Linked DNA regions of Homo sapiens. The main gene of each other region encodes a partner of the protein of the gene in region 3 in a complex. Each region holds a gene or a part of one and is shown on either strand. Other genes may lie near its edges.

What was found.
Region 1: TAF1B (region 3) and RRN3 share a complex: the UniProt entries of both Homo sapiens proteins name them as parts of the pol I pre-initiation complex.
Region 2: TAF1B (region 3) and POLR1B share a complex: the UniProt entries of both Homo sapiens proteins name them as parts of the pol I pre-initiation complex.

Annotation. Positions count from the first base shown.
Region 1 is NC_000016.10:15,061,788-15,071,708, forward strand, and holds part of RRN3 (RNA polymerase I-specific transcription initiation factor RRN3), read right to left. Parts: intron 9,465-9,921; coding exon 9,334-9,464; intron 8,468-9,333; coding exon 8,283-8,467; intron 6,491-8,282; coding exon 6,382-6,490; intron 3,585-6,381; coding exon 3,432-3,584; intron 1,497-3,431; coding exon 1,409-1,496; intron 119-1,408; coding exon 1-118. UniProt on the Homo sapiens protein: Required for efficient transcription initiation by RNA polymerase I (Pol I). Required for the formation of the competent pre-initiation complex (PIC).
Region 2 is NC_000002.12:112,542,544-112,552,464, reverse strand, and holds part of POLR1B (DNA-directed RNA polymerase I subunit RPA2), read right to left. Parts: coding exon 9,794-9,921; intron 6,801-9,793; exon of another isoform or gene 6,543-6,800; intron 5,454-6,542; coding exon 5,286-5,453; intron 5,045-5,285; coding exon 4,898-5,044; intron 3,199-4,897; coding exon 3,066-3,198; intron 1,600-3,065; coding exon 1,463-1,599; intron 691-1,462; coding exon 467-690; intron 1-466. UniProt on the Homo sapiens protein: Catalytic core component of RNA polymerase I (Pol I), a DNA-dependent RNA polymerase which synthesizes ribosomal RNA precursors using the four ribonucleoside triphosphates as substrates.
Region 3 is NC_000002.12:9,837,610-9,847,657, reverse strand, and holds the start of TAF1B (TATA box-binding protein-associated factor RNA polymerase I subunit B), read right to left. Parts: upstream 4,185-10,048; 5' UTR 4,117-4,184; coding exon 4,099-4,116; intron 3,698-4,098; exon of another isoform or gene 3,199-3,697; coding exon of another isoform or gene 3,181-3,198; intron 2,439-3,180; coding exon 2,340-2,438; intron 1,602-2,339; exon of another isoform or gene 1,472-1,601; intron 1-1,471. UniProt on the Homo sapiens protein: Component of RNA polymerase I core factor complex that acts as a GTF2B/TFIIB-like factor and plays a key role in multiple steps during transcription initiation such as pre-initiation complex (PIC) assembly and postpolymerase recruitment events in polymerase I (Pol I) transcription.

The DNA.
Region 1 (9,921 bases), on a different chromosome or scaffold from region 3:
CACTACTTGAAGGACTTCGGAAATGCGTGTCAAAGGAGCTTGGTGTGATCCCAATCACGGTATCATTCTGGGGCACTTCGCCTTTCAGAAAGTCATCATCTTCATCTTCCACTATGTCCTGCAGAAACATCAGAAATCATCAGTAACATCACCAGTGCTGACTGAAAAGCTTTCAACAATTCCTTCCTCAGGAAGGTGTTAACGTTTGTAAAGATGGTGAAGAAAATATCTTAATTTCAAAAGAAAGCCAGTGTAGTGGCACACGCCTGTAGTCCCAGCTACTCAGGAGGTGGAGGTGGGAGGACTGCTTGAGCTCAAGAGTTCCGAATCCAGCCTGGGCAACATAGCGAGACCATGTCTCTAGAAAAACAGAACAGAACAAAAGCTCCCTCTGATAAGCACTTCCTTCTTACCAACATACCCACATAACTGCTCATCACACATTGTAATCATTTGTTTCAAGTCTGACTTGCAAACAGATTTGAAGCTCAATGGGGACAGGAAACATGACGAGTCATTCTTGCCCAGTGTTAGGAACTCTTGTACCTAACACAATGTGAATGAATTACACGCCCCTCAACAAATGAAACATAAAGAAAAAGATGAAAGGGGCTTTCCAATGATTACTTATTAAAAACAACAACAAAAAAGCCATCTTGAAGCTGCTTTTAATGAGAAAACAAATGTGCTCCCAAGCAACAGAGCAGCGAAATTCTTTATTACTGGATTCTAACTTTCCTCTCTAACTGTAACTGTCTCAGCTCCACCTCATGTGACCTGGAGGGTATGTTGCAACCTGCGTCTTCACCACCCATTCATGAAGATCTATAAAACTAATGTAAACTGCTGGGGCAATTTCAACATGAGTCAACTGGAGATTGTTACTTGGTAAGAATGCGCAAGTGGCAAAGATCTAAATTCATTCAGCTAATTTGTAATTAACCTTCGCTTCTCACATGTCAGTATGTGAAGTGTCTGGTTTAAGCAATTTATCCAAAAAAGCCATAGACTCTTTAAATAACAACAAAACCTGGGCCTGGAATTTTATAAAGGCAGAATGAGTAAGACACGGTTTTGGTGTGCTTTTTTAAAGAAAACAGGGTCTTGCTCTGTTGCCCAGGATGAAGTGCCATGCTGCATTTACAGCTCACTGCAGCCTTGACCTCCCACCTCAGCTTCCAGAGGAGCTGGGATTACAGGTGTGCACCACCACGCCCAGCTAATTAAAAAAATTTTTGTAGAAACAGGGTGTCACTGTGTTGCCCAGGCTGGTCTCCAGCAATCCTCTGGCCTTGACCCCCTAAAGTGCGGGGATTACACGCACGAACGACTTGCCACTTACTATCTCACTGTGACCTGGAACCAGAAAGGAGATTCCGAGAGTGTGCTCAATCAATCACAAACTGACCTTTTTCATGGGTTTCTTGAACTCCTGTAGCTCTTCAGCACTCATGTCTTCCCACACCTGATAAATAGGATCAATGAATTTCTTTGACCTGTCAACAAAGATCACATTTCAAAGTCAAGTTAAATACTTCGGCAGAAGTCAAAATTGGTTTGGATCTTTTCTCACAAGATCTATTACCCAAAACCAAGAAGTGAAAACTACAGCTTAAATAATTACATTTAAAAAAAACCTGGCTGGGTGCAGTGGCTCACGCCTGTAATCCCAGCACTTTGGGAGGCTGAGGTGGGCAGATCATGAGGTCAGGAGATCGAGACCATCCTGGCTAACACGGTGAAACCCCATCTCTACTAAAAATACAAAAAATTAGCCGGGTGTGGTGGCGGACACCTGTAGTCCCAGCTACTCGGGAGGCTGAGGCAGAATGGCCTGAACCTGGGAGACGGAGCTTGCAGCGAGCCGAGATCGCGCCACTGCACTCCAGCCTGGGAGACAGAGCAAGACTCTGTCTCAAAAAAAAAAAAAAAAAAGAAAAAAACAAAACAAAAAAACAACCCTCTATGTAAATGCTGTAACTAATGTGGCTCTTTCTGTATAAGAGTTCATTCACTCATGTCGATGGAGTATTGAACTACCGTTTTTCATCTTTCCATTTTCATGTGAAATTGTTTCTAAACTTTACAAAGACTCACAAGTCAGTTAGATACAGTATATCCAAATGGAAATGAAACCGTAATATTCTGGAACTCTCTTTTTTATATTTCTGTAGTAATTTGCTGAAAAGTAAGTCTAGGAAAAACAACTAATCTGGTTTCAGTCAACCAAGACTTCAGGGACCAGACAATCCCAGATGGTCATGATGCTGCTAGTTATTTTAGAAACCATAATAAGCAAAAATCCTGCTTCCTTATACAAGTGCCAAGTTAAGGCTGGCCCAGTGGTTTTCTAGAACAACTCATCTAGATAAATCGCTTTTTGTTTTTTTTTTGTTTTGTTTTTCTGAGACAGAGTCTCACTCTCTCGCCCAGGCTGGAGTGCATTGGTGCAATCTCGGCTCACTGCAACCTCCACCTCCCGGGTTCAAGAGATTCTCCTGCCTCAGCCTCCCGAGTAGCTGGAATTACAGGCGCCACCACCACACCCAGCTAATTTTTGTATTTTTAGTAAAGACAGCGTTTCACCATCTTGGCTAGGCTGGTCTTGAACTCCTGACTTCAAGTGATCCGCCCGCCTCAGCCTCCCAAAGTGCTGGGATTACAGGCATGAGCCATTACGCCCAGCCAATCGTTTGTTTTTCGTTTATCCTGTGCAACAGAATGGTATGTGGTCTCTAGAGGAAGGAACAAGACACTTGGCAGAAAATTATGAAGCAAGAAAAGACAGCACCCTCCCCTATCCTGGCACCATTATCCCCATTAACCTTACATGTTTAAATAACAGTTTAAAGAAAAACAAAAAACAAAAAACCCTTGATGTCAGTCTGGCTCCTAGTGAGGCAAAGATCTACCCACTCTGGGGTGCCTGCGCCACTCGGCAAGTCCTGCTAGGCATCCTCTACTTTGCATCTGGTGAAATATACGCAGGGAGACCACGAGATGCTCATCAACAGCGAGGAAGGGCCACTTCTGGTGAAGAGCCCTAAATCCCAATTTTGGGAAAAGCAAACATGTATCACGTTTAAATCCACCTCCTGGCCGGGCGCGGTGGCTCACGCCTGTAATCCCAGCACTTTGGGAGGCCGAGGCGGGCGGATCACGAGGTCAGGAGATCGAGAACATCCCGGCTAACACAGTCAAACCCCGTCTCTACTAAAAATACAAAAAATTAGCCAGGCGTGGCAGTGGGTGCCTGTAGTCCCAGCTACTCGGGAGGCTGAGTCAGGAGAATGGTGTGAACCCGGGAGGCGGAGCTTGCGGTAAGCCGAGATCACACCACCGCACTCCAGCCTGGGCGACAGAGTGAGACTCCGTCTCAAAAAAAAAAAAAAAATCCACCTCCTCCAGCGTCAATGTTTAAAAGTACCTACCTCTTCAGCACACAGGGATCAAAGGGGAAGAAGGTGTCCAGCGGGTTTGTGCAGATCTGCACTGAGTCTCCTCCAGCGGTACTCCTAATGACTGGCAGCATCTGGCGATTGTTCCTCTCAATGATGGTGTAGCAGAAGACGAGCTGGTACTTACTGTGGAACAAAAAAACAACACAGACAGAGGCATTAACATGCTGGAGTGACTCGGTGCAGATGTGAGCTGCGTGTGACAACTGTACCTACCACAGAGAAATTGCTGAATATAACAAGTGCTAGTAAAAATAACAATATAAAGCAGAAAGTAACACTTTTAGGGTACCGTTCTATGGGTCTTCTATTTGCAAGTTTGCTAAGGAGAAAGAAAACGTGGCTATCACTCAGAATGTGAAACTGGGCTTATATTTTAATGAGTAATAGATATTATTCATTATATTTTAATGAGTAATAGATACTATTCATTAAAAATAAATGTTTGCAAGGCAAAACTCTTAGATTACGTAACTATAGGTGTCTTTATTTTTACTGTTTGCAAAAGAATTAGAAGGTTGGTGGTAAAGGGATTCAGGAGTTACTCAGGAGGAAATAGTGGTTGGTGAAGAGACTTGCTGAAGAAGCACTGAAAAAGAAATAAGCCTTTACTGAAGGAGGGACACGGGGTTGACTAAGTCATGACCTCAAAAACAGGCACAGAAAGGACTAGGCATGCCGAGTGAGAACAGTTAAATGCATAGAAGAAAACATAAAATAAAGACAATTATGTTTTTAATTTTTCCAGTAGTTGTCTCTAAATGATTGAGCAACTTGAAAAATTATCTATTGGACAGCTTCTCCAAGATGAGGACTCAGATCTCACTTCTGTCACTCTCCATCTCAGGTTCTCAGGTCACCATGGCAACTTCAAGCCACATACTTTGATTTCTGTCCTGTTAGCCAAGGCTCACAGCACTTGACCCCTCCTCCTGGTGGAGGACACATCAGCAAAACCACACTGGAGGGTGGTTTGCACTATCAGGTAAAGTTGAAGATCTGCATCTCCTACAACCCCGCAGCTGACCGCACTTCCGGGTGTGTGACAAGGAAGCATGTGCCCACACACAAGAATGTTCCTGAGCACTAAAACACTAACACAGCCGGCTGGGCACGGTGGCTCACACCTGTAATCCCAGCACTTTGGGAGGTTGAGGCAGGCGGTTCACTTGAGCTCAGGAGTTTGAGACCAGCCTGGTCAACATGATGAAACCCCATCTCTACTAAAAATACAAAAATTAGCTGGGCGTGGTGGCAGGCGCCTGTAGTCCCAGCTATTCGGGAGGCTGAGGCAGGAGAACTGCATGAGCCTCGGAGGTGGTGGTTGTAGTGAGCTAAGATCACGCCACTGTACTCCAGCCTGGGTGACAGAGCAAGACCTTGTCTCAAATAAAAAAAAAAAAAAAGACAAAAACTAACAGATGAAATCCCAACAAAGACTCAATAAAAAAGATTCCCAGAACATAACACAGCAGTTAAAATCAAAATAAAGCTTTGTGTCAATATGGTTCAATCTCAAAAGCATCAAGCAGGCAAAAGCAACAGCTACAGAATGGTACACGCCTTTATTTACCATATCTGTACCTAGGCAGAGACTTTTATTTCAATCCCCTGCTCTTAGCCTCACATCGCATCACACTCTGTGCCTCCAATGCGCATGCCAACCCCAAATCGAGAGCCCCTGGACCAGATGGTTCACAAATGCAGTCCTCTGTCCCCACCCCGAGAACATACCAGGGGCAGCGGCCTCTGCTTTGCTTCATCCATCCTCACTCTTTGAGCTGCTCACCATCTTAACCAACGTGCTGAAGCCTCCACCCACTCACTGCCGTTGCTTATTGGTCTCTTTATGCCTTTTCCTAATCCTTTACTATCACTGAGACTCAGAAGAGAGGACACCTTGAACCAGACGCCTAGCAAAGGAGAACTAAAGAGGCTGACGGAGCTCAGCAAGCTGTTGGCTCTTATCTGTTGAAGATTTTAAGCTATGATCCGGCCTAAATATCCTCATTGAATATTCAATTCTCCAATTCGCTTTCTCCATAAAGCAGAATAACTTAGTGAAAGCTTACAAAGGAGCCAGACTACATTTAAATCTGTGCTGCCAGTCTAGCTCTATGACTTTAGGCAAGTGATTTCACCTCTCTGTACCTCCACCTCCCTGTTGATAAACAGGGTTTCATCCTAGAGGATCAAATGAGTTCTATGTAAAGTGCTTAGAACTGCCTGGCACAGAGGAAAGGCTATGGATTAGCCATAGCTACCAGACCTGAGAGAACAGAACTCTCTAAACCAATCTCTTACAGGTCAACATTTGCCTCATGTCCAGTTTATTTCTATTACTATTACAGGAGTCACTCTAATAAGCATCTATGGCTTTGCCCCTCTCAGCTTACTGGTTGCCATACTTATTTCAAAGTGCTGCCCTTTGGATAAGAAGTAGTAGTAATTTCCAACGCCATCAAAGTATAAAAACAATAGCTGTATCACAGTATTTCCTGCAAGGACTGGGTTGTTTTTGTTTGTTTAAGAGACAGGGTCTCATTCTGGAGCCCAGACTGGAGTGCAGTGGTACAATCAGGGCTCACTGCATCCTTGACTTCCTGGGCTCAAGTGATCCTCCTACCTCAGCCTCCTGAGTAGTTGGGACTACAGGCACAGGCAACCACACCCAGCTAATTTTTAAAATTTTTTTGTAGAGATAGGGTCTCACTATGTTGCTCAGGCTGGTCTTTTAACTCCTGGCCTCAAGCAATCCTCCCACCTCAGCCTCCCAAAATGTTGAGATTACAGGTGTCAGCCACCACGCCTGGCCTTTTATAATGTTACTAATTTCATAGAAATTTAACACTCTTACAATACTAGATAAACATAAATAAAAATATTTTAAATAACTCCCATCAAGAAAGCGTAAATAACTTACTTTGTGATTGCAGCAAAAAAGTTAACCACTGAGGGCAGGCAAATCTTCAGGGGATTTAGCTGGCTCATCACTATCCGCTCAAAATTCAGACTCTGAAGATACTGCAAACCTTTGGTTTAAAAAAAAAAAAGATTTTTTTAAAGGTACAAATAAGTGAAAAGTGTAAGATACTTTTAAAAGCACAAATTATCACACATTTAAAAAAAACTTTAAAAAATTATTTGCAGAAATGCTTTAAATAAAGGTCCATGCAGATAGTCACACAGTATATGGCCCAGAAGAGTATCACTAGGCTAACCACATTCATTGGTCACCAAGGCAGCTTCTCTAAAGAAAACTTAGGAAGTAGCAGGCTGTAAGATTCCACGACAATGTGAAATTCATATGTTTGCAAGCTCAGTGTATGCTGAGATAATACAGAGGGAGAAAAGACCTTGTGATTTGGTTTCAGCTAACAATCATGACAGGCAACAAAACAAAACAGCAATTTGATTCTAGCTTGCATGTCTTGTTAGTGAAGCTGAGTGCTGTTTTCAGGTGCACAGTAGTCATCTGTAGTTTTTTTTCTAAACAAGAAAACTCCAAATTTGCCTTCTACCTCAACGGACGGCAAATTTAGACAGAAACCACTTTCTTAGACTTAATGAATATAATTCTTTTCTACATGAGTAAAATAAAGACATCACATTTATTTTAAGAGGCAAGCTGACCAACTTGTACTTAAGTATATTTTCTTAGGAGTTTCTTTGATACGTATTTCAATAAAAATTACCTAAATGGGATGTCACAGCTTACAAAAACAAGATATTTAATCCAGATTCCTGGCATTAATTTATACAAAGAAAAGCAGAGCTTGTATTTACTTACCTTGTGATAAAACCTCATCCTACTAGTTCATACAACATCTTTTAGAAGCATGTAGGATGTAGGTAAACATATATAATGCAACACATACAACTTTCAGTTTAGAGCTGTGGCTGTTAACCCAAGGAGACTGCGACCCCCGCAGAGGACACCTGGCAGTATCTGGAGACACTTTTAGTTGTCACAGCTGGGGGTGGTCGGGGACTGCTGTTGGCAGCTAGTAGGTGGAGGCTGTTAAACATCCTACAGTGCAGAGGACAGCCCCCGACGATGAAGGATGATGCAGCCCAAATGGCAATCGTGCAGGGTTCAGAGACCCCGGTTTAGAGGAAGTGACCCACAAAACCATAAGAATTATTCATAAACATAAACAGAACAATTTACAATGACTTATAAACACTGTTCTTGGAGACTCTCTTCAACTAAAATACACTAATCTAATAAGTTTCAACTGACAGATTTGAATTATAAGTAACTCTTAGAAATTAGCAAAACAATACTGGTCAATTAAGTCTCAAGGCTTCAGGCAGAGTTTAATCTATATAAACTCAAACTTTAGGGTCAGCCAAACCTGGCTTCAGTTTTCTAATCCTGCCACTAACCATGTGATCTTGGGAAAATGACTTTCCTGTGCTTTAGTGCTGTCTGTAAAGGGAGAATACCTGCCATTTACTGGGCTGTTACAAGGACAACAAAGAGAAGGTGCATCCAACTGAAGCTTTGTACAGGGCGCTGGCACAGCCCAGGGCTCAGCCTCACCTCTGGAGACATCTTCACATTTCAAACTTTCAAAGGCAGAAACCTCTTTCTTAACCTCAAATCCATCTTAAGGGGTTTGTAGGGTTCTCAAGCTCAAATCTATCTTAAGGGGTTTGTAGGGGCCTATGAGCTGCTTGAAATTATTATTAAAAGTTTGAGTGCACATGCAGTTTTCTGAATCCAGTTTTTATAAAAATCTCAAAAAAGTAATGAATCACCATTCTGAAGGGTGACAAGAACACAAGGAAAATCCAGTCCAGCACTCCCACAACACTGACCTTCTTTCAGGTTTCCGCTCAAAAGCTGCTTGTGTCTAAAAACAAAGGTGTAGAACACAGCTTGGCAGGCTGAGTAAAATGGTCCATGGAGAGCAACATCGCAGAATGCCTTTGTTCCCGAATCCTGGTTATTAAGGTATATGTGCAGCCAGTTAACCAAAAGATCTAGGCATGATTTTACAGTACTAGAGAAAAGAAAAATTCAAGTCAACTTTACACATCATAAAAAAACCAGAATAACATAAAAACACACAACTGCCTTTCATTACAAACCATGCTAAGTAAGTTCATAGGTTTCTTTAAATAATACCCATGGGTACAGAGGAAAAGCAAAGAAAGGAAGGATAAGGATGGGTGCGTAGGAAGACAACCTTCCAATTACAAGGCAGAGTAGCTCTGACCTTCTAGGAACAGGTGAGCCCCTAAGAACGTCCCAAGGGATGGAAAGCAGGTTCTCCTAACCATCTCAAAGGCACCCCTCTTAAGGTGATTGGCCAAACAGGACACGTTCACCAACACCTCTCAAGAGAAAGACAGTCTGGTGGACTTCAGTATTCCCTGATGCATCCTAGTCAAGTCCTATGGTGAATAATTTTGTGGTTGGGGAAGGGTTTCAACAGCATCCTTGTCCAAAGGTATCTTTATGGGCCACTGGAAGAAACTGGCCTCCTAGATAGGTCTATTACCTTTAAAAGGGTTTTTCTTCAGCTTTAACAGATACAATAGATTTGGAATGCAAATGAAAAAATGACAAACCTACAAAAAGAATCAAAACAGTATACAACACTGTCCTCTATCCACAAAACAAATGGATCTTTAAGTGCAACCAAAAGAGATGACAAAAGCCTTACATACAGGGTTTTATATATAAAAAAGGAGACACTTTATTCTAAAATCACCACTTAGAAATATAAACATCTTGCACAGAGTAGGGATTTTATTCACTTTAAAAACATGCCAAAAAAAATGGGAGATATTTCTGACTTGAGACAATGCTATACTCTTTTTAAAGCATGATATTAAAAAGTATTCGGAAAATTAGGCTACTTACATAAGAGGAATAAATTTAGCTCTTGCCAAAAAGCTTCCAATATAATTTCCAGCAGCCTGCCTGATGATGGCAGGATTACTTGGGTCCTGCAATTTTTTCCAGAGATGTTCCAAAAATGCCTCTGCGAATCCCTATAAAAAGAGAGGGCGTCGGTGTGATCTTTTTTAATGCCTAAGATAATCTGGCTATCAAAATCCCAAGATTTTTACTTCACCAATGTAGGGAAAAGTTCTACTATCTCATAACTATCTCATGGGCTTCATTTTTAAAACACATTGAGAGAATATCATTAAAAACAAAAGGCACCTCGGGTGTTAAATAATCCAGTGGATCCCAAACCTAGCTAAGCATCACAATCAACCCGGGGCCAGGCACAGTGGCTCACGCCTGTAATCCCAGCACTTTGGGAGGCCGAGGCGGGTGGATCACCCAAGGTCAGGAGCTCGAGACCAGCCTGGCCAACATGGAGAAACCCTGTCTCTACTAAAAATACAAAAATTAGCCAGGCATGGTGGCAGGTGCCTGTAATCCCAGCTACTTGGGAGGCTGAGGCAGGAGAATCGCTTGAACCCAGGAGGCAGAGGTTGC
Region 2 (9,921 bases), about 100 Mb from region 3:
ACTGGACAGCACCAGTATGGAGCTGGCTTCTTTAGTAATTATACAGTGGTTATATAAGACAAAGTCCTTGCTTTGGAGAAATAAAGTGATACAATCCCTGCAACTTTCAGGGATTGTACAGAAAGAAAAATGTACATCTGTGTACACAGAAAGTAAAAAAGTAAATGTAAATGAATGAAATGTTCACAATTAGAATCCAATGTACTATTTGGACATTATTCTGGAAGTCTGAAATTATTTCAAAATAAAAGTTAAAAAGTACTATAAAATAAAACACGACTACTAAAAAAATACAAGTGAGGAGGGCCGCAAAAACAAAGGTAGCCCCCGGCTAGCAAGGACCAGGATTCTACCCCAAGATTCATTCTCATTCCCAAATGACTCGCCCGCCCAAACTGCAACCAATACAAAGAACCACTGACAGCCCTCCGCCCCTCCAAAAACAGTTTAGACAAAGCACACATACTTAAACAGGAACTCCGCAGCTTGCTCATTTGGGTACCAGTCAGGAACATTGAGTTTTACTCTGAAGCATTCACCTAGGTAGTTAAGGACCTGTTTTTGTGTCGAACAACCCTCTTCCATTACAATCCTTAACATCTGAGAAACAGAGTTCCTAAGGAAAGAATCATCCTCTTTTCCTTTGATGAGCTCCTGAAAGATCTGATAATCAGAAAAGCTGACAAGTGCCTAGAATAGAAAATAAAAGGTTTAATTGCTCACTAATAACTAAAATACTTTATCTATTCACTAATAATTATCTTCTCTCATTTTTTTAATACCCAAGGAAAATTAGCACTCTGCTATTGCTGAATCAAAGTAAACTCTCTAAAATAAAGCATTCTTTGTATGATAGCCAGACAGCACAATTGCCTCCAGGGTCCTCATCTCCTGGTGTTCACAAACGTGTAGTTTCCTCCCATGCCGAATCAAGGCTGGCCTGCTTGACCAAGAGAATGTGGTGAAAAAGATAATGGGAGACTCCCAGGGCTAGATCACAAAGGGCACTGCAGCTTTTTCCTTCTGCATCTTCTGCTCTCTGTTCTCTCAGCTAACTATATGGAGGAAGACAGTTGCCTCAAGCAGCCTACAGAAAGGGCCATGTAGAGAGCAACCCCATGAGGAGACCTCCTGCCACCAACCAGCAGATTTGCCAGCCATGTGAGTGAGCCACCTTGGAAGTCCTGAAAATGACTGCAGTCCTGTCTGACATCTCCATGCAACCTCCTGAGACCCTGGGCCACAAGTGCCCAGCCAAAGCACTCCCAAACTCCCGACCCGCAGAAACTGTGAGACAGAAATGTTATTGAGTTTTAAGCTATTGAATTTTGACGTAATTTGTTTTGGAGCAGTAGACAACTAGTACAGTATTATTTTAACAAGGAGAATCCATCCAATGTGCACAGGATACTACCCCCAGTGAATTTCTTCATAACAAAAGAATGCATTCATTAAGTCATACCTTAAGTGCAAATCCCAAAGGAAGAAAGAACAGTTCTTTTCGGTAAATAAAGTTCAACATAACAGTGCCATTTTCCAAGTAGTGGAGGTTCATATTGACAGCGGAATGTTCTTCCCTCACACAGTGCATTGAAACTCCTATTGAACCAAACAACAAAAAAATCAGAAACTCATTGATATCTTAATTGCTTCAACCATTTTCTTTCTGAACAATCTTAACCTCTTAGACACAATTAAAGCCAAATCACTAAGTTTAGCCAAGACTGGCAATCAAAAATGTTTCTAAACCTCAGCAAATGTCCTCTTGCATGCAAAATCTACCCAGATTGAGAAACACTAATGTAAAATAACCGAAACTATGAATTTAAGCAAACTTCAAAGTTTCCCTCCAGGACAGAGTCCACATCTTTTAGCACTTTATATCTGCCTTAAACTGTGGAGTCTGGTCAAGACATGGTGCTTGATCTAATAGTTCCAATGGAGAAAAGTAGAATTTTAGATTTTATTTCAGTTTCAGGCAAAGACTGCTAAGACATACTACCATCAACTGATGCAAAAGAAAATCACTAGACATTCAGGCATGCTGTTTTTCTAGGTATAGTATGTATGGCTATAATTAAGGTCTGATTTTTAGCTCAACTATCAGGACAAATTGTTTAACTGTCAGGGTTGCTCAAGAATACAACATGCTGTCTTAGGCATTGTCAAAGAGAATGTTCCAACAGAGGCCAGGTGGCTGTCAGACAGAGACCCTGAGGGGTGTACCACAGTGGCCTGAACCAGAAGACATCCAAGGCCCACATTCACCTATGGCCAAGCCAGACTAGCTTCCATCTTCATAAGTAGTAACAAAAATACACATGCTCTTTCAGTTTGCAAAAGTGCAGCAGCCTGAACCAGAAGACAGCCAAGACCCACACCCACTTATGGCCAAGCCAGACTAGCTTTCATCTTCATAAGTAGTAACAAAAATACACATGCTCTTTCAGTTAGCAAAAGTGAATTTTAAAATGCTTATGATTGATAAAAATCATATATATTCAAGGTGTACAATACCTTGAATATACATATACATATATTATAATGATTTCCACAATCAAACTGATGAAAACATCAATCACCATAGTTATCATTTGTAGTACGTGTGCACGCGTGTGTGGTTGAGACACTTAAAATGTACTCATCAATTTTAAGCAGTACAGTATTACTATCATCACCAGGCTGTACATCAGATCCCCAGAACTTATTCATCTTGTAACTGCAAGTCTGTATCCTCTGACTAACATCTCTCCATTTCTTCTTCCATCCCAATTATGAAAACTTAACACAAGAATGCTCAATAGAAAAACAACAAAAAACAAAAGAAAGACCAGACACGGTGGCTCATGCATGTAATCTCAGCACTTTGGGAGGCTGAGGCAGAAGGACTGCTTGAGCCCAAGAGTTCGAGATCAGCCTGGGCAACGTGGTGAAACCCCATCCCTACCAAAAAAAAAAAAAAAAAGAAACAAAAATATCAAAGACCATTTGGATGCATCTACTTCAAAAAAAAAAAAAGTTTTAAATTTTCCTTAAAAAATATTCTAATAATCTCCAGAACTTACCATACTGAGTATAACCAGGCCCTCTGGTTTTCCATTTTGGTCTTATCATTGCAATGGGAAAATTTCTCCGAGGCATAATCAACATTCGGATGACTTTTTCAATGCCATTGATTATAAAATAGCCCCCCATTTCCTGCCAAAAAGATGAATTGCAACTTGTTAAACAAAGATACATGACTAACTGTAAACATGAACCTCACTCCTAGCCAAAGGTAGTACAACACACAGAATAGGAACACAGAGGTGAAATGTACTACTGATCCCTTGAAAACAGTACACAGACACTGTCTTTGTGTGAATTAACAGTTTTCTCAAGTATATTACAAAGGTCCTAGGGACATGGGAAAAAAGTATGGAAGAAAAACAGGGTACTTCTCTTTATCAGACAGGCTCAACCTATCTTGCCTTTCTGTCCCCTAAAATGACTTCAGTCTTCAAATAACACTAAAAAAAACTTACTCCAAAGAGGTGTTGAAAGATAAAAACTGGGCCGGGCGCGGTGGCTCACGCCTGTAATCACAGCACTTTGGGAGGCCGAGACAGGAGCATCACAAGGTCAGGAGATCAAGACCATCCTGGCTAACACGGTGAAACCCCGTCTCTACTAAAAATACAAAAAATTAGCCAGGCGTGGTAGTGGGCGCCTGTAGTCCCAGCTACTCGGGAGGCTGAGGCAGGAGAATGGCTTGAACCCAGGAGGCGGAGCTTGCAGTGAGCCAAGATTGCGCCACTGCGCTCCAACCTGGGTGAGAGAGGGAGACTCCGTCTCAAAAAAAAAAAAAAAGAAAGATAAAAACTGTAACCATTTTGCTTCCATACGAGTATGGTTTCCCAAATACGTTCAAAAACTTGATTGTATGAAAGCTCTGGAAACCAGAAATTTGGATTAGCTAAATAGAAAAATATTTTTAATAGCTCTGCTCAATATCACATTTCTGTAATAAACAGCTACTATTTACGAATTGCCTACTATGAAACAGGCATATTATAGTAGGTGCTCTATGTTATCATAACATTTAATTCTCATAACAATGAGTGGGGTAGCTATTATACCCACTTGCAGCAGAGGAAACTGAGGCTCAGGGAGATTAACTTCCCCAAACCACAAGACTGATAAGCGGAAGAGCTGTGTGTCAAACCCAGATCTGACACCAAAACCCTCTTCCCACCACATAACACCATCTACCTATTTAGTAGGCACTGTTTGTTCATCTTGATTACCTCAACTCAACTCTGCAAAGCCACCTAATATAGCTGAAAGAAATGATGAAGGGAATGCATATAAGTCATTTAATATGCGCACAGAATCTTACTGTTAGCAAAGCAGACATTTTTATTTCACTTTTTTAGTGACGGGGTCTCACTCTGTCTCCCGGGCTGGAGTGCAGTGGCACAATCATGGCTCACTGTAGTGAGGCCTCCTGGGCTCAACTGATGCTCCCGCCTCAGCCTCCCAGTTAGCTGGGACTACAGATCCATGCCACCACCATGCCCAGATAAATAGACATTTTTGACAATAGCTTTGTGGATTAAGACAGCTTGAAAAAAAAAACAAATTTTGTGGAAGTATGTCTCTATCATTCAGAAAATTAGGGAAAAACCTACCAGTTCTTCCCCCCGAACAATAATATTCTCTAATTTTACAGCCACTTTTTCATACTGTCTAATTTGATAGTTATTCAGAGCCATACACTGTATGCAGGCAAGATACTGATATCTCTTTCACCTATCCAGAAATTGGAGCACAGAAAGAAAACACTGACACACTTCTTGTCTTCTTACTCCCAACCCAGGCCTTCTCTACTGTCTCATGCCTGGACGCCCGTCATTACCTCTGCCTCCTCATGGTGCTCAATGAGGGCTTGTGGGGGAAGGTTACGTAAGTTGCAAAGCTTGGATTTCACCATGATGGGAACATAGCCAAGAAACTGCTTAATGATTCCTTTTGAGATTCCATTCACTGCCCAGTTGATATCAGCCTAAATGAAAACAAGAGAAAAAGTTACTTAACAGAAATATCTGCATTTACGAGAACAAATGAGTATTTTCAAAGACTGAGGAAGAAGATCAATTAAATTATTTTATGCCTTAGATTTAGAAGGTGGGATCTCTTAGACAATAGCACCAAGAAAGCAATTTCTGGCATAAACTTTATTAGGCACCCGCCCTACTCCCAAATATGTGCAGTGTTGAGAGTCACACAGTATCACTAGTACTCACTGTCAACTTCCCACGGTAGGTACTCCTTCGGCCCCGGCATTCTGCTGGATAAACATTGGCCTCTTTGCAGATGGTCCCTTTTGGAACTGTAGGTGGACTGATAACAGCATCCAGAATAGTAAAAGAGATACGCTCATCTTTGAAAGCAAATTCAAAGGGAGGTATAGCCTGAAATGCAATTCACACTATTAAATTGCTTGCATTTCCAAGGCATTTTTTCTCTAAGACTCTTCCAAATCTTATGTGTTCTACAAACATTGATGCCTGTGATGCCACCATGACACACCTAAAAAGGACAGTTAAGGCTACCTCCAGTTGGCCGGGCGCAGTGGTTCACGCCTGTAATCTCAGCACTTTGGGAGGCCGAGGTGGGAGGATCACAAGGTCAGGAGATCGAGACCATCCTGGCTAACACGGTGAAACCCCATCTCTACTAAAAATACAAAAAAAATTAGCCAGGCGTGGTGGTGGGCGCCTGTAGTCCCAGCTACTCGGGAGGCTGAGGCAGGAGAATGGCGTGAACCCGGGAGGCAGAGCCTGCAGTGAGCAGAGATCACGCCACTGCACTCCAGCCTGGGCGACAGAGCGAGACTCCGTCTCAAAAAAAAAAAAAAAAAAAAAAAAAAAAAAAAAAAGCTACCTCCAGTCTACTCATAACTTCACTAAATACTTAAAACCACAAAGCATTATTAGTACAAGATTGTTTTGAGTGACCACATGTGTCAGAGACTGTAGTAGGCTCTAGGGATACAGCTGTGAACAGAACAAAATTCCTGTTCTCTGAACCAAGAGCCTTGTGTATTCTTAACTTGTCTATGTGCATAGCAAGACAAATGGGACTACTGCTAATAGAGCAAGGATACGGAAACATCCTTTAGGATTTAAGACTAGATGCTTAATGTACAATGGCAACGTCAAACTGAAGCCAGAGCCATGCAAAGGAAAAGATGGTGGCCAGGCTGGGTTTCCCCTTCCACAGAAGTTACTTCTTTGTACCATTCTGTAGGGGAAGCTTTGCTGTTCTGAGGAAGGGGCATCACCAAGCTCTCCTATATATTAATTACAAGCAACCTCCTAGACTTAGTCTTAGAATAATGAAAATGAAAAAATGGAACCAAGAAAGAATACCAAGGAGGTTCTCCACCTTCACGTGAGTTAACTTACCTTTTCTAAATTTTAAAATGTTATCTAAAGCTGGTATTATTTTAGAAATTCATATTTTATTTAAAAATAAAAGCCAGATGCAGTGGCTTATACCTGTAATCCCAATATTTGGGAGACCGAGAGAGGAGGACTACTTGAGCTCAGGAGTTTGAGACCAGGCTGGGCCACATAGGGAGACCCCGTCTCTACAAAAAATAAAAATAAAAAAATTAGCCGGGCATAGTGGTGCACGCCTGTGGTCCCAGCTACTCAAGAGGTTGACGTGGGAGGATCACTTGATCCTGGAAGGTCGAGGCTGCAGTGAGCTATAACCATGCCACTGCATTCCAGCCTAGGTGACAAAGTGAGATCCTGTCTCAAAAAAAAAAACAGAATGAAGTTAAAAAAAGAGAGATTAGACAATTTGCTTTCTCAAGACGCAGCTGCACTATTTAGAAGGAAATACAGTGAACTGTCATTATTCATAATAGTTATGTTCTATACAGTTGCCATAAACACTGAATTAGCCAATACTGAACCACTGCTCCTAGGGTAAATACATGGTTAGCTTCCTGCGAGCCTCTGGTCACATTTCATCAACTGATCAACACACAATCTTGTATTATGTGTGTTTCTGTTTAAGGACAGCTTATTTAATACATATTATTGAGTCCGTAACTCATGCCTGAACAAAGCCTATGATTTCATCCACTGATCAATACACAACCTTGCATTATGTGGGTTTCTGTTTAAGGACAGCTTATCTAATATATATTATTGAGTCCCTAACGCATGCCTGAACAAAGCCTATGTTAAATGCATGTATTAATATTTTCCCCTAAAGGCACAGCACAGCCTTCTTGTGCTTAGGAACTTTATACAGAACTTTAATACTTTAATACTTTGCTTGGGGGACATTTTAAACAGCAAAATCACCAACAAAAAGCACAAAACACGGCACTAAATAGATAGTGAAGACAACCTCTGTTTATAGTTTAAGAACTTAAAACAAGAAGGCCGAGCATCACCTTGTTAGATCTCAGCTGGGAAAATGGACACTGAGCAACTCAACTTTTTTGCTGCTTCTGGGCATGGTGCTTTTGGAGTAGAAGTAAATTTTAGTGAGTAGGTGAATTTGCAAATATGGAATCCCCAAGTAATAAAAATCAATTGTATTTTGAAAAGACAGACACATAAATTCTGACTCACAGAAAGGAGGAATTCACTCCAAAGAAACTTGGCAAAATTATGTTTTGTAAGTAAAAAATATGATAACTATTTTTTCCCTTGGCTTTATAAGTATTAGTTATTTATGTTACTGTGTTTTACAGAACTTTTTCAAATACTATATTATTATAGTCCTAGCTAAGTTGTGGCATCATTTTCTATGCAGGGCCAAATTTTCTTCATCTACTTCAACCAAAACAATTATCACAAGGGACTGAATGCACAAGCAGACATGAGAATCCAGCTGTCTTTTCATTAAGCCAGACATTAAAAAGATTTTTAATAATGCAATTCATCTAACTTCTTTTTTGCTTTGGAAAATATTTTTCTTAAAAATGTTAACATATAATTGGTTTATTTATTTATGTATTTATTTTTTTGGGAGAGTCTCACTCTGTCACCCAGGCTGGAATGCAGTGGTGCAATCTTGGCTCACTGCAACCTCCGCCTCCCAGGTTCAAGCGATTCTCGTGCCTCAGCCTCCTGAGTAGCTGGGATTACAGACATGTGCCACCATGCCCGGCTAATTTTTGTATTTTTTAGTAGAGATGGGGTTTCACCAGGTTGGCCAGGCTGGTCTGGAACTCCTGACCTCAAGTGATCCACCCGCCTTGACCTCCCAAAGTGCAGGGATTACAGTCAAGAGCCACCACACCCAGCCGACTGGCTTATTTTTAAATTAGTGCTTTTCTAAAATTTCTCAATTGGATTTTTTTTTTTTAAAGACAGGTCTCACTCTGTTACCGAGGATGGAGTGCAGCGGCACAATCATAGCTCATTGCAGCCTCAAATTCCTGGGTTCAACTTATCCTCCCACCTCAGCCTCCCGAGTAGCTGGGACCAGCTACTTGGGTGCGCACCACCATGCCCCACTAATTTTTAAATTTTTGTGGAGATGGGGTTTCACTATGTTATCCAAGCTGGTCTTGAAATCCTGGGCTCAAGTCATCCTTCTGCCTTGGCCTCCCAAAGTCCTGGATTACAGGTGTGAGCCACTGCACCCAGCCCGATTAACTTTTAATTAGGAATTTTTTCTCACAGACATGATACTGTAACAATCCAGGCACAATACAAATAACCCCCACCCCTCTAGTCTTTCTAAACAATAAATCTTAATGGCTCCCATATTATTTGCCGAATAGAGTTCAAGAATCAGACTGGCAATCAAAGCTCTCCACATTATCTGTATCCCTATCTCCCACAACACAAATCTTACCCAACAAAACCACAGGTAGGGTCCCCGAAGCATGTGACTCTGCTCTACTCTTCCCCTGGACGAAATGCACGTTTCTCACTTCTTGAACTCATCTAATCCTGCCCTTTCTCAAACTCCTGGATTAGTTGCGCCGCCCATAGGCTCCCGCAGTAGCCCACACAATCCCTTGGCAGAGCAGTTCTCAAGAACATTGGCATGCACTGCTTTCATTATCTTCACCCCTTCAACCCCCAAACACGACAGGGAGCACTTAAATGCATGAACTGTCTCGTACACGGGACTGCCTCCTCCACATCCTCTGAGCCTAGTGCCTGGAGACACTGGGGATGCTTACTAAACGAAGCTTTCCCCCACCATACTCACTTGAATTCTGCTACCATTACTCTACGCTAATAATGCAATTACACTTTTCGATTCAATCTTGCTTTCATGACTCATTTATACCTTCCTCGGCACCTGCTTAATTCATAACAAATGACGAGTAGTTTCTCTCTTTAAAGCTCTAAGAGAAGGAAACTGAAGGATAACCTTGAACATTACACTGTACCTACAAATACGTTCGGGATCTTTCGAGGTACGTTTTGGAGAGGTAAGTCTTCAAGTGATATAAAGCCGTGTGCATTGTGAAGCACATCCCCAGATAAGCCACTTCCTCACTCTCACAGCACCCCGAAACTGTCCAAACTACGGTTCACAATCACTTTTCACTCCAGAATCACGAATACATCTCTTAAGACGCCTCGACTCCAAGTCTCACGAAGGCCAGTACCGCGTCCTGTTTAACATGTTGTGCTCTCCCGCTTACCCACCAAGCCTGTCAGGATCAAGGAGCACATGCATCTGGGGTCATACTGTGACCTCCCAGCCACCTCCCTGGGATTGGCCTCGCCGCGGCAAGGGCGCCGGCGGACGCCGCGCTCACCTGCACCGCGAGGCCGAGACCCTCGTGCACAGCGTAGTTGAAGGACTCCACGTGCGCCCGCGTCAGCTCCTGCAACGCTGCCTTTTGCTGTTCCCGCGGGATTCCATAAGAGGGGTCAGTCAAGTGCT
Region 3 (10,048 bases):
CATTTTTTTTTCCTGGATAAAATATACTAGGATAACATTTTGGTTCCTTTATCAATCTGGAAGGCCTTTCCCAGATTGCAGAGCGTGTCTGGAGCTTGACAGTTACATGCCAAGGAAGAGGGGGCAATAAAAGGGGCAGAAAAATAGGGCAAGTTGCACCATGACTTCCATTCTTCACAGCTGTAACTGTCTCACCTGCCATTCCCCACCCACTGTATTTCAACATCACCATCGCCACACTGCTCAGCTCCAGGGAGCCCCTACCACATTATATTCTCACAGTCCATGTGAAGAACATGCCTGGACCGCCATAAAGCCAAGAATAACTACTGAAGTTGTGCAACACGTAACTTTTTTTTCCTTTAAGCCTGTCGTCTGAAAGGAAGGCACTGAGCTAGGTTCTTGGTCTTTATAAAGATGTTGTCCACCTTCATGAACTCTACATTCTTGACAAATTACTCCACAGGAGTTGACAGTCTTCCAAATGTGGAGCTAGGGAGAAGTATTAGGATCTTTCAAACTAAAAAATGACTGCAGCAGATTTGATCAAACAGAATCAAACGGAAACAGTATCAAAATCAAAAATAGAAAAGCAATTAGTTAATGTAGTTCAATTCCTATAAAAATAGTATGCTGACTTCATCTACTAATGGCAAATACTCCATTAGACATAATCTTTCTTCACTGGGTTTACACCTGCACTATAGTACAAAAGCAACAGTGAGTAAAACTGCTAGCTCCTTACTACACAATGAGGGTGAGGACCAAACTGCACATCTGTCAGGTGCACAATCTGACACACACAGACACACACACAAAATATATCTCCATGAAACCACCACTATAATCAAGATAATAAATATCTCCATCACCCCAACAATTTCATCAAGTGAGCACATATCTTTTTAATATTCTGTATGACTAAACAGGAAGCAGAGATAAGCATTCCAGCTGCAGACTCAAGAACACTGCCTCAAGGAAAAGCACTTGTGTGACACACCTGCAAGCTCAATTCACCAGTTTTGTCAAGGGAAAATGTTTTTCCTTTTACTCATTTAATATATTTTGTCCAGGTTTTTCATTGTTTAGGGGACAAAGGTAAGTCTGGTCTCTGTTAGTCCATCTTAGCCAGAAGCAGAAGTCTACACAGTTACTTTTAATGTCCCAAATTTGCCTTTCTTAAGCCTGTATGGTGAAGGTAACATTTGTTCCTTCCTGGATCTGTAGACTTTGAGGAAATCCTTTTCCACTGAGGAGAGTCCTGGCACATTTAGCCTGTCCAGCAGCAGACTCTCTACACCCTTGATCACTTTGGTGATGCTGGCCCGAAGGTGTGTTCACCACAATAGGACCTAGCACTCACAATGTGAAGGTAGCCTCGTTTACCAAGGTTACACAGGACAATATGACAATCTCTACTTTAAGAGGCAGGTGTGATGGGTAAAATGAACACTGAAGTCAGAAGACTCACATTCAAGTCCTGGTACTTGGGTAACTTTGGCAAACTCACTCAACTTCTGAGCCCTATCAATAGGCTCTCACAGTTAGTGATGAGGAGGAAATGAGATAATGGATCCAAAAACTTTGTAATCTGTAAGGTACTATACAAAGGTAAAAGGATAACGAAGAATAATTCCAATATTCCCAACAGTCCTCAAGCTTTCTTTCTCTTTTTTAGACAGAGTCTTGCTCTGCTGCCCAGGCTGGAGTACAGTGGCGTGATCTCGTCTCACTGCAACCTCCGCCTCCTGGGTCCAAGCGATTCTCCTGCCTCAGCCTCTCAAGTAGCTGGGACTACAGGCGCATGCTACCACGCCTGGCTAATTGTTGTATTTTTAGTAGAGACGGAGTTTCCCATTGTTGGACAGACTGGTCTCAAACTCCCGACCTCAGGTGATCCACCTGCCTTAGCCTCCCAAAGTGCTGGGATTACAGGCGTAAGCCACTGCGCCCGGCCCAGTCCTCAAGTTTTCTAACATTCCATCTTCCAAACCTCTAAGCCACCATGACACATTTAAAAAAATGTAAATAAGTACTAACTGATAAAAAGAAATGCATCATCTTCTAAGTACAATTTTAATTATTTCCCTCAACCACATACTCTGAATAAGAAATCATTTATAAATGTGGCCCAACATAATTTCAAAAACTCATCCTCAATCTAATTCACAAATCCCTTAACCTATGTGTAAGTACCTAAGACCACATGCATCCTTGGAATGTTGGCATTGCATGAGTGACAAAAATCAACCCAATTCTTTGGGACTTAGACTACATATCAGGCTGAAATGGCAATTTTTAAAACATAAGCAAATTCATAAATGATATTTGTTACTTACCTCTGTAACATTGTGGCAAGAAGTGCAATAATATTTGCCTTCATCAGTAAGACCCCATGAGACAGCAGCACACTGAGTACAGCGTTCTTTAAACTCTTCCTATGGGAGAAGAGGACAGAAAAGGTGTTCCCATCAAGCCACATTCAATACATCGTACCTAAACCTTGCAGTTCTATTTAATGGGTTCCTGGCAACTTTATTAATAAAAAATCATAGACAATAAAAAATATGTCAGAGAGATTATCCGCAAACAAGGAGAGGCGCGGTATGAAACCGAATTAAACTACTGGAGAAAATTTATTGAAATATGCAGTGTGACAGGAAAAAAAAAGAAAAGGAGGTAGTAGGGGTAAACTGGAACCAAAGATGAGTAAACAAAGCTCCTTGAAAATACTGTGAGAAGATGACAAACAAGTATAGAGAAGACTTTTAAAAAATGCAAATACAATTTGGAACTCCTCCAGGACACTAAAAGCGCATACCACAGAGGAACTAGATTTGTAATGGTTTCAAGTTTCGATTTATTCACTCGGCAGCATAAGGGGTATCAACTATGTGTGTACCAGGCTTTTTACTAGGTGCTGGGGATTCAATGGTGAGCAAAACAGACCAGACATGATCCCTAGTCTGGGTATACGCTAGCTAATGGTGAGTTACAATTATTCATTTCATCAGCCTAGCATTTACAGAAGTTAGCCAACCATCATCAGTAAACATTTTTTAAGCCTCTACTATAAGACCGTACTGCTCCTGTATATACAGGCCTAATTCTCTGATCCCCAACTCTTTGGAGTTTGACTTGTTGTTAGCATTGATCTAATTATCGAGTATCATTTAATACCATCAAAGCGTGTGCCATTTGGCCGAGGGCGGGGGATCACCCCTATAATCCCAGCACTTTGCGAGGCTGAGGCAGGAAGATCGCCTGAGCCCAGGAGTTCAATACCAGTCTGGACAACATAGCGAGACCCCTGCCCCTACAAAAAATTAAAAAAAAAAAAATTAGCCGGGCTTGGTGGTGCATGTCTGTAGCCCTAGCTCATTGGAAGGCTGAGGCGGAAGGATCTCTCGAGCCCAGGATTCGAGGCTGCAGTGAGCCGTGATCGTGCCACTGTACTCCAGCCTGGGGGAAGAAGTGAGATCTTGTCTCAAAAATAAAAAACAAAAATGTGCCATTTTACGTAGTACCTAAAACAAAACAAAATGCATGCCAAATCAATTTTGGCAACTTGGTAAAGTGTTCAGTGACCCCGTACTAACACTACGATGAATGATAGCTGGACAATTTGGGGAGTTCCCAAACCCGAATTTAGAATCCCTGCTGGAGACAGTGGCAAGGATTCCCGGAGAGACCGACAGGGGTTACCCGGCGGCATCTCAGGTTCCAACCCCTGCCCCTCCCTCACCCACCCCAGCATTAAAGGGAACTTGTGGGTGGTCCAGTCTCGAGGATGAGCCCTGTGGGTGGCCACCCCACAAAACCCACAGCTTCATCCTTAAACACACCCATAACGACAAACACCACACCCTCCCTCCCCCACAACCTCGCCGAGCCAGAAACTCCAGCCTCTTTACCAAAGCCGCGCGCGCATGCGGCCGGCCAGCCCCAGTCCTTAGCCCGCCCTGCAGCCCTCCGCCCCGCCTTCCTCCAGCCGGTGGCGTCGCCGCCCCAACCCGCGGCGTCCTCCGCCGCTCCTCCTCAGCTTCTCTCTCCTCCGGCCCCGGCGATCGTGGCCCGCCAGGTGCACCGCCTCCTTACCGCCTCCTCGAGGTCCATCGCGGCGCCGCGGGAGCTTCCACAGCCGGGACCCGTTACCCGGGTAGCGAGCGCAGCTTCCGGGAAAGGCTGGAGAAGCTTCCGGCCGGAAACGCGAGATCCGCGCCTAGGATTCCGTGCGCCTGCGCGGCAGGGAAACCGCGCGCTCGGGGGCGAGGCTCCGCAAAGCTCGCAGACCCCTCGCGGACTACCTAACTTTCCTACTCTTGAGAACCAAAACCAACCAATAAGAAAGTGGGCGACGCCTACTGCTGAGTGGTTTGATCAAGCTCCGTTCCGACGATCATTCATTCCAAGACAGACTTGCTCCTCCGGCGGCACGGGGGGTCGGACAAGGCCGTGCTCGCGAGCGCGGGCTCTGTCCTCTGTGGGTTCCGCCCTCCGTGGGTTCTGCCCTCCGAGTCTCGCCCCTTGCTGGCTTTTTTAAGGGGAAGCCTCGGGGCTTGGAGGAAAGCTCACGGGCTGTGAGTTAGACCTAGGTTTCTAATCACGGCTCTCCTGCTTACTTGTGCCTCAGTTTACTCCTCTGTAAGAATTAGATGTTATCTGTGAGCCCCTTATAATTGAGTCTCCACCGGGCGTGCTGGTTCACGCCTGTAATCCTGGGGAGGCTGAGTCGGGAGGATTGCTTGAGGCCAGGAGTTGGAGACCAGCCGGGGCAACAAAGCGAGACCCCTTCTCTGCATAAGTAAATAACTGAATAAATAAATGCATGAGTGAATATAATTGAGTCTCAGTAAGTGCTCAATAAATTTAGCTCTTATTGTTTCTTCATCTAACACATTCATTCCTTGTTTTATTTATTAAACAGGAACTGGTTTGTGTCCTGGGGATTCAGCAGTGAACAAAGTAAACAAAAGTCCTTGCCTTCATGGAGATTGTATTCTGATGGGGAGAGACAAAAATAAATAAGGAAAATATGTGGTATGTTAAGTGGTGGTGAGTTCCAAGGAGAAAAATAAAGAGGAGAGGAGAATGGGAACAACAAGGTGATTTCAGTCTGAAATGTGATGTTCAAGAGAGATCTCATTGAGAAGAGGATTTTTGATATAATCGTACATCCCAAGAAGTTAGAAAAAAGATTAAACTGAAAAATAATGGGATGAAGGAAATGTTTAAAAAAGAGAAATTAATAAAAGAGAAAGCAAGCTTCGATAGGCTCCACAAAGGCTTGCTGTGGTGGCTGGTGCCTGTAATCCCATCACTGTGGGAGGCGAAGGCGGGCAGATTGCTGGAGGGCGGGAGTTGGAGACCAGCCTGCCCAACATATTGAGTCCTCATCTCTATAGGCTGGAGTACAATGGTTCAATCTCAGCTCAGTGCAGCCTCCACCTCCCAGGTTCAAGCAATTCTCCTGCCTCAGCCTCCCAAGTAGCTGGGATTATAGGCACGCGCCACGACGCCTGGCGAATTTTTGTATTTTTAGTAGAGACGGGGTTTCACCAGGTTGGCTGGGCTGATCTCGAACTCCTGACCTCAAGTGATCTGCCCACCTCGGCCTCCCAAAGTGCTAGGATTACAGGCGTGAGCCACCACGCCCAGCCTAAAAGATATTTTTTAAGAAGAGAGTCTCAACCAACTAACATTAGCTCTTTGAAAATACTAATACATTCGATAAACTCTGGAAAGATTGATCAAAAAGAAAAGAGCCCAGCTTGGTGATGCACACCTACAGTCCTAGCTACTTGGGAGGATGAGACGGGAGGTTTGCTTGAGCTCAAGGCTGCAGTGAGCTATAATCGGGCCACTGTGCTCCAGTCTGAGCAACGGAGCAAAGAAAATCAAAATAAACTGATATCAGTGGCATCACTAACCAATATGTAGGGGCATCACTGCAAATACCACAGACATTAAAAAGATCATAAGGGCATATTCTGAACAACTCTAGGCCAATAAATGTGAAAATTCCACCAATTTTTTTTTTTAAGACAGTCTTGCTCTTTCACCCAGTCTGGAGTGCAGTGGCACCATCTCAGCCCACTGCAACCTCCGCTTCCCAGGTTCAAGCAATTCTCCTGCCTCAGCCTCCTAAATAGCTGGGACTACAGGCGCCTACCACCACACCTGGCTAAGTTTTGTATTTTTAGTAGAGATGGAGTTTCACCATATTGGCCAGGCTGATCTTGAACTCCTGACCTGCCCACCTCGGCCTCCCAAAGTACTGGGGTTACAGGCATGAGCCACCACGCCTGGCCAAATTCTACCAAATTTTTAAGAAAGAAATAGGCCAGTCATGGTGGCTCACGCCTGTAATCCCACCACTTTAGGAGGCTGAGGCAGGAGAATATTTGAGGCCAGGAGTTCGAGACCAGCCTGACCAACATGACAAAACCTCGTCTCTACTAAAAATACAAAAATTAGCTGGGCATGGTGTTGCACGCCTGTAATCCTAGCTACCTGGGAGGCTGAGGCACAAGAATTGCTTGAACCTGGGAGGCAGAGGTTGCAGTGGGCCAAGATCATGCCATTGCACTCCAGCCTGGTTGATAGAGAGAGACTCTGTCTCAATAATAATAATAATTTTAAAAAGAAATAAATAACACCCATCTTATACAGATGCTTCCAAATAATGAAAAAAGAAGAGCATTTACCAGTACATTTTAGGAGACAAGCATGACCTTGACACCAAAACTTGACAAGGATATTTCAAGAAAAGTCAAAATTAAAAAGCAATTCCTCTCATAAACATACATGCAAAAGTTCCAAACAAAACATCAGTAAATTGAATGTACATCCTGTTGTACTCAGCAATATATAAATAGGATAATAAATCACAGCCAAGTTAGGTTTATTCTAGGAATGCAAGTTTGTTTAACATCGAGCCTGTAATCTCAGCATTTTGGAAGGCCAAGGTGGACAGAACACTTAAGCCCAGGAGTTTGAGATCAGCCTGGGAAACATAATGAGACCTCATTTCTGCAAAAAATTAAAAAATTAGCTGGGTGTGGTGGCACAGTCCAATAGTCCCAGGTACCTAGGAGACTGAGGTGGGAGGATCGGTTGAGGCTGCAGTGAGCTGTGGTCACGCCACTGCATTCCAGCCTACATGACAAAGCAAGACCTTTTCTCAAAATTAAAAAATGTTAAAAGAAAAAGTAGAGAAAAAAGAATAAAGATTTAAAAAATAAATAAAAGAGAAAAAAATAAATCATACAGTAATCTAGTGTGATGCAAGGATAGACCAAAAAATTGACAGAACTGAATAGAAAGTCCAGAAACGGACTCATAAGTACATATAAAATAATCTGATTTACAACAAAGCTGCTACTAAAATTCAGTGAGGAAAGAATAGCTTTTCTCCTTTTTCTTTGTTTCTTTTTTGAGATAGAGTCTTGCTCTGTTGCCCAGGCTGGAGTGCAATGGCACAATCGCGGCTCACTGCAACCTCTGCCACTCAGGTTCAAGCAATTCTCGGGCCTTAGCTTCCCAAGTAGAGGTAGCTGGGACTACAGGCATGTGCCATGACACCTGGCTAATTTTGTATTTTTTAGTAGAGATGGAATTTTGCCATGTTGGCCAGGCTGGTCTCGAACTCATAGCCTCTAGTGATCCACCCACCTCGGCCTCCCAAAGTGCTGGGATTATAGGCGTGAGCTGAAAGAATAGTTTTTCAATAAATGGTTCTGAATCAATCAGACATGCATATGAGAAAATTATTGACCCCTTTCTCACACTGTACACAAAAATTAATTCAAATAGATCCTACATGTGATAGGTAAAACCATAAAGCTTCTAGAAAAAAAAAGTGGTAAATATCTTTATGATTTGGTGTGGAATAGACTTCATCAACAGGGCACAAAAAGCACTACTCCTAAGAGAAAAGGTCATTACACTGGATTTCATTAAATTAAGAACTTCGATTCATCAGAAGACATTGTTAGGCTGAGCACAGTGGCTCACGCCTAGAACCTAGCACTTTCAGAGGCCGAGGTGGGAGGATTGCTTCAGCCCAGAAGTTCAAGATCAGCCTGGGCAACATAGAGAGATCCTATCTCTACAAAATTTTTTTAAAACTTAGTTGGGTGTGGTGGGCATGCCTGTAGTTCCAGCTACTCAGGAGGCTGGGTCGGGGGGATTGCTTCAGCCCGGGAAGTCAAGGCTGCAGTGAGCTGTGATCATGACACTTCCCTCCAGCCTGGGTGACAGAGACCCTGTCTTTAAAAAAAATTAAAAAAAAAAAGACATAATTAAAGCAAACTAAAAACTGAGAGAAGAAATTCACAATACATATTCGACAAGACATGTAACAAAGGTTTCCTACCGATCTATTAAGAAATAATAAACAATCCAGTTAAAAATAGGCAAAAAGATTTGAACAGGTATTTCATAAAAGATAACAGCTAAATGGTCAATAAATATATGAAAATGTACGCAACGTCATTACTTATCAGACAAGTACAAATTAGATCAGGCTTGGTGGCTCATGCCTATAATCCCAGGATTTTAGGAGGTCAAGGCCTTGCCTTCCACCATGATTGTGAGGCTTCCCCAGCCACATGGAACTGAATAAGTCCATTTGAACCTCCTCCTTTTGTAAATTGCCCGGTCTCGGGTATGTCTTTATCAGCAGTGTGAAAACAGACTAATGCAGTGCGTGAGAAGGGAGAGGATCTGCAGCACCATGGAGGGGTCAGCCCTAGCATAGAGGGTTCATCTGCTGCAGAACCAGGAAAGAAGGGAGAGCACGTGGGACAGCGCAGGTGCATGAGGTGGAAGGTCTGTTCTCTGAGCTTCATTGAAATGGAAGCAAGTCATCAGTTGAGAGTGGGAGTGGGGAGGGCTGTGGGAAGTTTGAGAGGAGACCAGAGGTGTAATAACTCTTGGAAATGGAAGAATGGAATCAGGAATCTAGCAAAAATTGCAAGCAGCATGAGGGCCTACTTGACATTTGCAATCATAAATATAAAGATAAGGCAGTCAAGACACCCAGCCATTCTGATGCTCACTTTGTTAAAACATTCCCTTTACCCTGAAGGGACAAATTAAGTGTATTCCCCATTTCAAAAATATCTGCCAATACTACTGACAACTACTTGTCATCCCAGGAATACTTACTTTCCTGTTTTTTAAAAAAGAAGGTAACTAGCTCATCTGTGGGTCTGGCAGGTCTTTGAAATGTTTTGCCATGAGGTATCCAAAAGCCTTCTGTGGGGACACAGGACTTTTGTGGATATTCATGCTCAGTCCAGATGACGGCGATTCCTGCGCTATATCTGCACAGTCTTGTCTTCATAAAATTGACTATATCCTGACACACTCCAGCAGTGTGCACCTTCTGCCTTTAACTTCTGCTGCCACTTGATGCTGGTGGATGAGGCGGTGGGTGAATTGCCCCCGCGGTGCTGTCAATGTCTTCTCTCAGAGCTCTTCTAGTATTCTAGGTTCTTTCATGGTTACACAGACACAATTTTTTTTTTTTTTTTTTTTTGAGATGGAGTCTCGCTCTGTCGCCCAGGCTGGAGTGCAGTGGCGCGATCTCGGCTCACTGCAAGCTCCACCTCCTGGGTTCACGCCATTCTCCTGCCTCAGCCTCCCGAGTAGCTGGGACCACAGGCACCCGCCACCACACCCGGCTAATTTTTTCTATTTTTAGTAGAGATGGGATTTCACCACGCTAGCCAGGATGGTCTCGATCTCCTGACCTCGTGATCCACCTGCCTCGGCCTCCCAGAGTGCTGGGATTACAGGCGTGAGCCACCGCGCCCGGCTACACAGACACAATTTTACCACAAAGTGTTGTTTATAAAAAGAAATGGTTTATTGTCTAGAATAGGTGTTTCCTGGTGCATCTTCCCATTACAAGTGGTTTTTTTTTTTCCCTATGTTCCATTGTGGAAATAGAATCTAGCAGCTCTCATGCAGAGACATGTTTGAAACATCTGCATCTTATCCAGCAGCATTGCAAAGCTTTGAATGGCAGACCAGTGTAATT